Homo sapiens: one gene and its partner. The protein of the gene in region 1 interacts with the protein of each later gene in a pairwise test. Each region holds a gene or a part of one and is shown in the gene's direction. Other genes may lie near its edges.

Region 1 (3,745 bases):
CCACCGTGTCTGGCTAATTTTTGTAGTTTTAGTAGAGACAGGGTTTCACCATGTTGGCCAGGCTGGTCTCGAACTCCTGACCTCAGGTGATCCGCCCACCTCAGCCTCCCAAAGTGTTGGGATTACAGGTGTGAGCCACTGCACGTGGCCTGTATGTAACTGATTTTTTCTCCATTATTTCTGGGTTCCTATTTCTTCCTTTTAATCAGTATCTCTCTGTTATCTGCCCCCCTTGGGCAACTGTCCCCTACGCGCTCTCTGAATCCTTGTCACCCCCCTGCCCCACCCCCTGACCCTGGGTGTGACGACTGCAGTGTGGCTCTGACCAGCCCCCTGTCTCCTTCCTGTCTCCTGCTTGCCTGCTGTGTCTGCTGATCTCGGAGTCCCCTCTTCCTCTAGCTCTTGTCCCCTGACCTGGGAGTTCAGCTTCCCCCTCCTGCCTTGCATTTGGGAGCCCTGTCTTCTTTATGGCTGGACACCCCATCTACTGCTCATTCAAAGGACATTTCCTGGGCTGGGCGTGGTACCTGTAATTCCAGCACTTTGGGAGGCTGAGGCGGGTGGATCACTTGAGCTCAGGAGTTTGAGACCAGCCTGGCTAACCTAGTGAATCCCTGTCTCTACTAAAAAGTACAAAAATTAGCCGGGCGTGGTGGCAGTCGCCTGTAATCCCAGCTACTTGGGAGGCTGAGGTAGGAGAGTTGCTTGAACGCAGGAGGCTGAAGTTGCAGTGAGCCAAGATCGTGCCAATGCACTCCAGCCTGAGTGACAAGAGGGAGACACCGTCTCCAAAAAAAAAAAACAAAGGACATTTCCTTTCTCCTCAGACCCTGGTTTCTGAGACCATCCGCCGATTTGGCCGCCTGGATTGTGTTGTCAACAACGCTGGCCACCGTGAGTTGTGAGACCCCAGGGCCATTCTCCACCTCCTGCCCCCCAACTCTGTTTCCTGCACGTCAGTTTCCCCACTCCCTGCCCCTGATTCCCTCATCCTGCCTCATACCTCTTTCTAGCCACTTGGACAGGAGAGTAAAGCAATGGAAGCCCCCCAGGCCTGTGCTGAAACTGTGGCCCTGTTCCATCCCTCCTGTGTGTCCCCAGGGCTGTGCCCTCACTTGGCCATGTCTCTCTTCTTTTCTTTTCTTTTTTCTTCTCTTCTCTTCTTTCTTTTCTTTTTTTTTCAGATGGAGTCGCACTCTGTCGTCCAGGCTGGAGTGCAGTGGTGTGATCTCAGCTCACTGCAACCTCTGCCTCTTGGGTTCAAGCGATTCTCCTGCCTCAGCCTCCCAAGTAGCTGGGATTACAGGCGCCCACCAGCACGCCAGGCTAATTTTTATATTTTTAGTAGAGATGGGGTTCATCATGTTAGCCAGGCTGGTCTTGAACTCCTGACCTCAGATGATCTGCCCACCTCGGCCTCCCCAAATGCTGGGATTACAGGCATGAGCCACTGCACCCGGCTTTTTTTTTTTTTTTTTTTCTGAGATGGGGTCTCACTCTGTCGCCCAGGCTGGAGTGCAGTGGCTCGATCTAGGCTCACTGCAACCTGCACCTCCCAGGTTCAAGCAATTCTCCTGCCTCAGCCTCCTGAGTAGCTGGGAATATAGGCACCCGCCACCACACCCAGCTAATTTTTGTATTTTTCGTAGAGACAGGGTTTTGCCCTGTCAGCCAGGTTGGTCTTGAACTCCTGACCTCATGATCCGCCTGCCTCAGCCTCCCAAAGTGCTGGGATTACAGGCGTGGGCAACTGTGTCCAGCCCCCGTCACTTTTCCTCTCTCTCTCACCCCCCACTTTAGACCCACCCCCACAGAGGCCTGAGGAGACCTCTGCCCAGGGATTCCGCCAGCTGCTGGAGCTGAACCTACTGGGGACGTACACCTTGACCAAGGTGAGGGCTGGCGACCCTGCCGCCAGGCCCGAGCAGCCTCCTGATAGGTGGATTGTGTGATGCATTTTGTCTAAGAGCAAAATGTTTTCCGTTCTTTTTATTTGTTTGTTTGTTGGAGACAGGGTCTCTCTCTGTCGCCCAGGCTGGAGGACAGTGGTGTGATCTCAGCTCACTGCAACCTCCACCTCCTGGGTTCAAGCGATTCTCGTGCCTCAGCCTCCTGAGTAACTGGGATTACAGGTGCGGGCCACAAAACCAGCTAAATTTCATAATTTTTGGTAGCTATGCTTCTGACTGCAAGTGATCTGCCTGCCTTGGCCTTCCAAAGTGCTGGGATTACAGACTTGAGTCACCACGCCTGGCCATCTATTTTCTGTTATTTAGTTTAATCTCCTTATTCCAAAAGGAAGATAAATGACTGCGAATCTCTACATCCAGCAAATCTACCTTTGTAGCTACATAGCCCAGTCTTAGGAACCTTCTAGAACCTTCCAGACTGGTGGTGGTAGGAGGGGATGTTAAGAACATATTGGGGCCAGACACAGTGGCTCACACCTTTAATCCCAGTGCTTTGGGAGGTCCTTGTGGGAGGTTCACTTGAGGTCAGGAGTTCAAGACAGCTGGGGCAATACAGCGAAACCCCCCATCTCTACAAAAAGTTTAAAAAATTAGGCGTAGTGGTGCCCTTGTAGTCCCAGCTACTCAGGTGGCTGAGGTGGGAGGATCGTTTGAGCCCAGGAAGTCAAGGCTGCCATGAGCTATGTACACACCACTGCATACAGCCTGGGCAACATTGCAAGATGCTGTCTCAAAAATAAATAAATAAATAAATAAATAAATAAATAGGCCAGGTCCAGTAGCTCACAGCTGTAATCCCAGCACTTTGGGAGGCCGAGGCAAGAGGATCCCTTAAGCCCAGGAATTCGAGACTAGCCTGGGCAACATAGTGAAACCCTCGTCTCTACAAAAAATACGGAAATTACCTGAGCATGGTGGTGCGCCTCAGGTACTTGGGAGGCTGAGGCGGGAGGATTGCTTTGTTGTAACCGAGCGAGTTATAGAGAAACGCCACACTCTGAGACAAGATCAGGAGTCCTTTATTAGCCGGCAGCCCAGAGACGGCTAGCGCTCAAAATTCTCTCGGCCCCGAAGAAGGGGCTAGATTTTCTTTTATACTTTGGTTTAGAAAGGGGAGGGGGGAGTCTAGTTAAAACAATCTTACAGAAGTAAAGCAGGCAAAAAAAGTTAGAAAGATAAATGGTTACAGGAAAGCAGACAGTTCCAGGTGCAGGGGCTTTAAACACATCCCAAGGTGATAGACGCTGGACGTTGGGCGCTATCAACCAGACAGAAACGCGGGGGCTTAGGGTACTATTAATCGGGCGACTGCCTGGGAACTGCGGATATAACTTGCCACAGTATCTTATCAGTAATTGCATTCTTTGATGTGCTGGGAGTCAGCTTGCACAAGTTAAGTCCTTGAAGAAAGGGGGGTTGGGTTAAGGGGCTGCAAGTGAAGGAGCCAGGATGGAGTCTGTCTGGCTCGCTCACCTAAGGGAGAGTCAATTCAGGTTAAAACAAGGTTAGGGTATCACAGCTTGAGCCCAGGAGGCGGAGGTTGCAGTGAGCTGAGATCGTGCAACTGCACTCCAGCCTAGGTGACAGAGTGAGACCTTGTCTCAAAAAAAAAATAATTCATTAATTAATTTTTAAAAAGAGCATGGAGTCCAGGCATGGTGGCTTACGCCTGTAATCCCAGCACTTTGGGAGGCCGAGGCAGGCGGATCACCTGAGGTCGGGAGTTTGAGACCAGCCTGACCAACATGGAGAAACCCCATCTCTATTAAAAATAC
Region 2 (3,745 bases), on another chromosome or scaffold:
GTGAGAGGTCCATGATAGGGCCTGGCCCAGCGGCGTTCAGCAAGTGCCTCAAAATTCATGGGCCTTCTAGTGATATCCCACAGCCTAACACAGGGCCCTGCCTCCAGGGAGCCTGTGGTCAGTATCAGCAGGTGAGAGGAGCCTAAAGAGATGCATCCTGCGTTGCTGAAGTTCCTGAGTCCAGTTCTAAGGCAGCTCTACAGGCACATTTCGCCAGGCATGGTGGCTCATGCCTGCAACCACAGCACTTTGGAAGGCCAAGGTGGGAGGATCACTGAGGCCAGGAGTTCAAGACCAGCCTGGGCAATACAGCAAGACCCTCGTTTCTACAAAGAATTAAAAATTAAAAATTTAGCCAGGCGTGGTGGTGCACACCTGCAGTCCCAGCTACTCAGGAGTCTGAGGCAGGAGGATGACTCGAATCCAAGAGATCAAGTCTGCAGTAGGAGCTGTGATCACGCCACTGCACCTCCAATCTGAGCAACACAGTGAAACCCTGACTCTAGGGGATAACAAAAGTCACATTTCATGAGGGCAGGCCTTGCGTGTGGTAGCAAGAGCTATGGTGGAGAGGGACCACCCCTGAGGGTTGGTGGGCTGCCTGGGGACGGTGCCCAGTGCTGGACAATCCACACAGCTCCTCTCCAATTGTTGTGGCTTCCCAACACCCCTGTAAAAGAAGAATTGCTATGATCCTGCTCTACAAATAAGAAAATTGAGGCCCACAGCTCACCCAGGAGCACAGAGCAAGCCAGTCAGCAGTGGCTGGCCATCTGGCTGCAGGTCCTGAGCTTTGTCCACACCACCAAGCCACAGTCTCCCTAGCAGGGAGGCGCACAAAACTATCAGAGGCAGAGGAAAGGGGTGGCCTCTGCCAGGTGAGGAGCCAGACGGCCTGCTTCGCAGATCCCTTCCAGCTGGCTTTGCCTTCCAGTGCTGAGGTGGGGTGAAGGAGGAAAGGCCGAGCTGGGAGAGGAGCAGGCGCTCGCCACAACCACCCCCACCCTGCTCTCCACGCGCCAGGTCCTGCACGCTGGGTGGGAGGGTGACGACAAGGATGGAGGAGCAGGGCCCCACCCCCGCCCTCCCAGGGCGCACCATCTGCAGCAGAGAGGGCCTTGAGCTGCGTGGGAAATGCGGTAGGCAGAGGGACACTGATGAGGGTGGGCCGGCTGACGGCAGCCTTCTCTCAGCCCCGGACCCCTCCCGCCATCCCCAGCCCTGCCCCCTCCCTCCTTCCAGCGCCTGTCACTCTTCCTGCCCAAACCAAGCATTTAGCACTTAGCCTCGAACCCTCAGCTGACTCCTCATCTAGGACTCCGTCCATCTCTCCAACTATTGCAGAATCTCCTTCAAGGCAGGGGTTTATGTCCCCCACCCCACGGGCCATGTGACATTTATAACTCTTTGGTGGAATGAGAAGAAAGGTATTTGGGATATGATCAACTCCGGCAATGCCATTGTGTGTTTACGGCAACAGCGGGACAGTGGTTCCAGGGGGCGGCCCCGGGCCTCCGTGACGTCACCGGATTGTCGCGTCACCGTCGCCTACCCCGGCGGCGCAACGCGCCCTGCAGGAAAGATGACGTCACCGTCGGAGCTCCTGCAGACCAGTGCGCGCTCGGGGAGTTGGCGAGCGGGTGGCGGCTGGGAGACGTCCCGAGCGCACGGGACTGACAGGCGGCAGAAGCCGGGCGGGGTCCGCTGGGCTCCGGACCCGTGCCCCCCCAGTTCCAGGGCGGCCCCGGGCGGCCCCGCCCCCTCGGTGAATGCCGCGGGCCGGCCAATCCGGGCAGGCCGCGGCGCCGCGCAGCCTATCAGCGGCCAGAGCTCGCGTGCGCTTCCGCGTTCGCGTGCGCTTCCGCGTTCTCGTGAGCTCCCGGCCCGCTGCCGCAGGGACTGGGAGCGGGCTCCGCAGCGCACTCTAGCCCGCGGCTCGGCTCAGTCGGTCTGCGAGGATCCGGCCCGCCGCCCCCCGGGGGACCCGATGGCCTCGGAGGGCCTGGCGGGGGCGCTGGCTTCCGTGCTGGCTGGCCAGGGGTCCAGCGTGCACAGCTGCGACTCGGCGCCGGCCGGGGAGCCGCCGGCGCCCGTGCGGCTGCGGAAGAACGTGTGCTACGTGGTGCTGGCCGTGTTCCTCAGCGAGCAGGTGAGCGGCCGCCCCCGGGCCCGCCGGGCCTCGGGAGCGCGCAGCCAGCCCAGGTGGGGACAGAAGACCCAACGGCCACAGCCAGCGCTGCCGCGTGCGTGGCGCTTCCCAGTTTTGCAAAGCACTCCCACTCCCACTCGCATCTGTGTCCTGCGTTCGTCCCGATATGCAGAAGAGGAAACTGAGGCCCGGGGCCTGTTTGTCTCATCCGACTAGGCCTCATTCCTTCCCTTCCCCAGAGTCTAGCGGAGTGCCCAGGGCCCCTCAGATAGCAGTGGCTCAATCCCGGCTTACCTTCAGGCCTTTGGTGCTGATGCCTGTAGTGGGCGATGTAATGACAACTAGACGGGGCCAGGGCCATAGGGCGGGGTTGTACAGAGCGGAGGTGGGGGTCGTGTTTCAAGCCAGACCCCAGTGTGAGGACCCATCACAGTTTGTAAACCACGCCGTTGGAGGCGAGAGATACACAGTGGCAGGTACAGACGCAAATCAATCCAAGACAGACAGACACATGGTGACCCTCACTCTGGGGCCTCATCTCCAGCCCCTGAAGCGGCTTCCAGGAATCTCAGCCCTTCCTGAAATGGAAGTCTTCCTAAATCCAGAGAGAGACGAATTGCAGAGAGGAGAGGGCTGCAGCCCCCAGCGACACGAGGGCAGGTCTCCTGGAGCGCTAGCTGGGTTGAGAGTGTCCACCCAGAGGGGAGTCTTGGGCGACTGTGTTTGAGATGCCCCCTGGTCCCGGGGCGAGGGAAGGCTGTGGCAGGAAGTGAGGATCCTCTCTCCTCTCAGGATGAGGTGCTACTGATCCAGGAGGCCAAGAGGGAGTGCCGGGGGTCGTGGTACCTGCCTGCGGGGAGAATGGAGCCAGGGGAGACCATCGTGGAGGCGCTGCAGCGGGAGGTGAAGGAGGAGGCGGGGCTGCACTGTGAGCCCGAGACACTGCTGTCCGTGGAGGAGCGGGGCCCCTCCTGGGTCCGCTTCGTGTTCCTCGCTCGCCCCACAGGTATGGCCCACCTGGAGGCAGTGTGAACAGGGCCAGTTGACACCTTTCCCCCAGCTCCTCGGTGAGGTGAGCCCCTCTACAGCCAGTCCTGTTATGGCTGGCACAGCCTGGCATGGGCAGATTCCAGCCTTTGGGCTGGGGGCCTCTCTCCTGGGTCAGGGATGTCTGTTGACTCTGCCAGAGCTGCACTTCTCTCCACACAGACCCTCCCTGCCCCATCCCCCACATCTCCCCCAGGTGGAATTCTCAAGACTTCCAAGGAGGCCGATGCGGAGTCCCTGCAGGCTGCCTGGTACCCACGGACCTCCCTGCCCACTCCGCTGCGAGCCCATGACATCCTGCACCTGGTTGAACTAGCCGCCCAGTATCGCCAGCAAGCCAGGCACCCTCTCATTCTGCCCCAAGAGCTACCCTGTGATCTGGTCTGCCAGCGGCTCGTGGCTACCTTTACCAGCGCCCAGACAGTGTGGGTGTTAGTGGGCACAGTGGGGATGCCTCACTTGCCTGTCACTGCCTGTGGCCTCGACCCTATGGAGCAGAGGGGTGGCATGAAGATGGCCGTCCTGCGGCTGCTGCAGGAGTGTCTGACC

Evidence for each region. The genes of interacting proteins can lie anywhere in the genome.
Region 2: the proteins of HSD17B14 (region 1) and NUDT18 interact in binary tests that used the Homo sapiens proteins (3 or more experiments, as listed by UniProt).

What each region holds. Positions count from the first base shown.
Region 1 is NC_000019.10:48,829,815-48,833,559, reverse strand, and holds part of HSD17B14 (L-fucose dehydrogenase), read left to right. Parts: intron 1-827; coding exon 828-894; intron 895-1,800; coding exon 1,801-1,892; intron 1,893-3,745. UniProt on the Homo sapiens protein: Catalyzes the NAD(+)-dependent oxidation of L-fucose, yielding L-fucono-1,5-lactone, which rapidly converts spontaneously to L-fucone-1,4-lactone. Can also act on D-arabinose and L-galactose, with lower catalytic efficiency. Does not use NADPH.
Region 2 is NC_000008.11:22,107,543-22,111,287, reverse strand, and holds the start of NUDT18 (8-oxo-dGDP phosphatase NUDT18), read left to right. Parts: upstream 1-1,987; coding exon 1,988-2,149; intron 2,150-2,941; coding exon 2,942-3,155; intron 3,156-3,392; coding exon 3,393-3,745. UniProt on the Homo sapiens protein: Mediates the hydrolysis of oxidized nucleoside diphosphate derivatives. Hydrolyzes 8-oxo-7,8-dihydroguanine (8-oxo-Gua)-containing deoxyribo- and ribonucleoside diphosphates to the monophosphates. Hydrolyzes 8-oxo-dGDP and 8-oxo-GDP with the same efficiencies.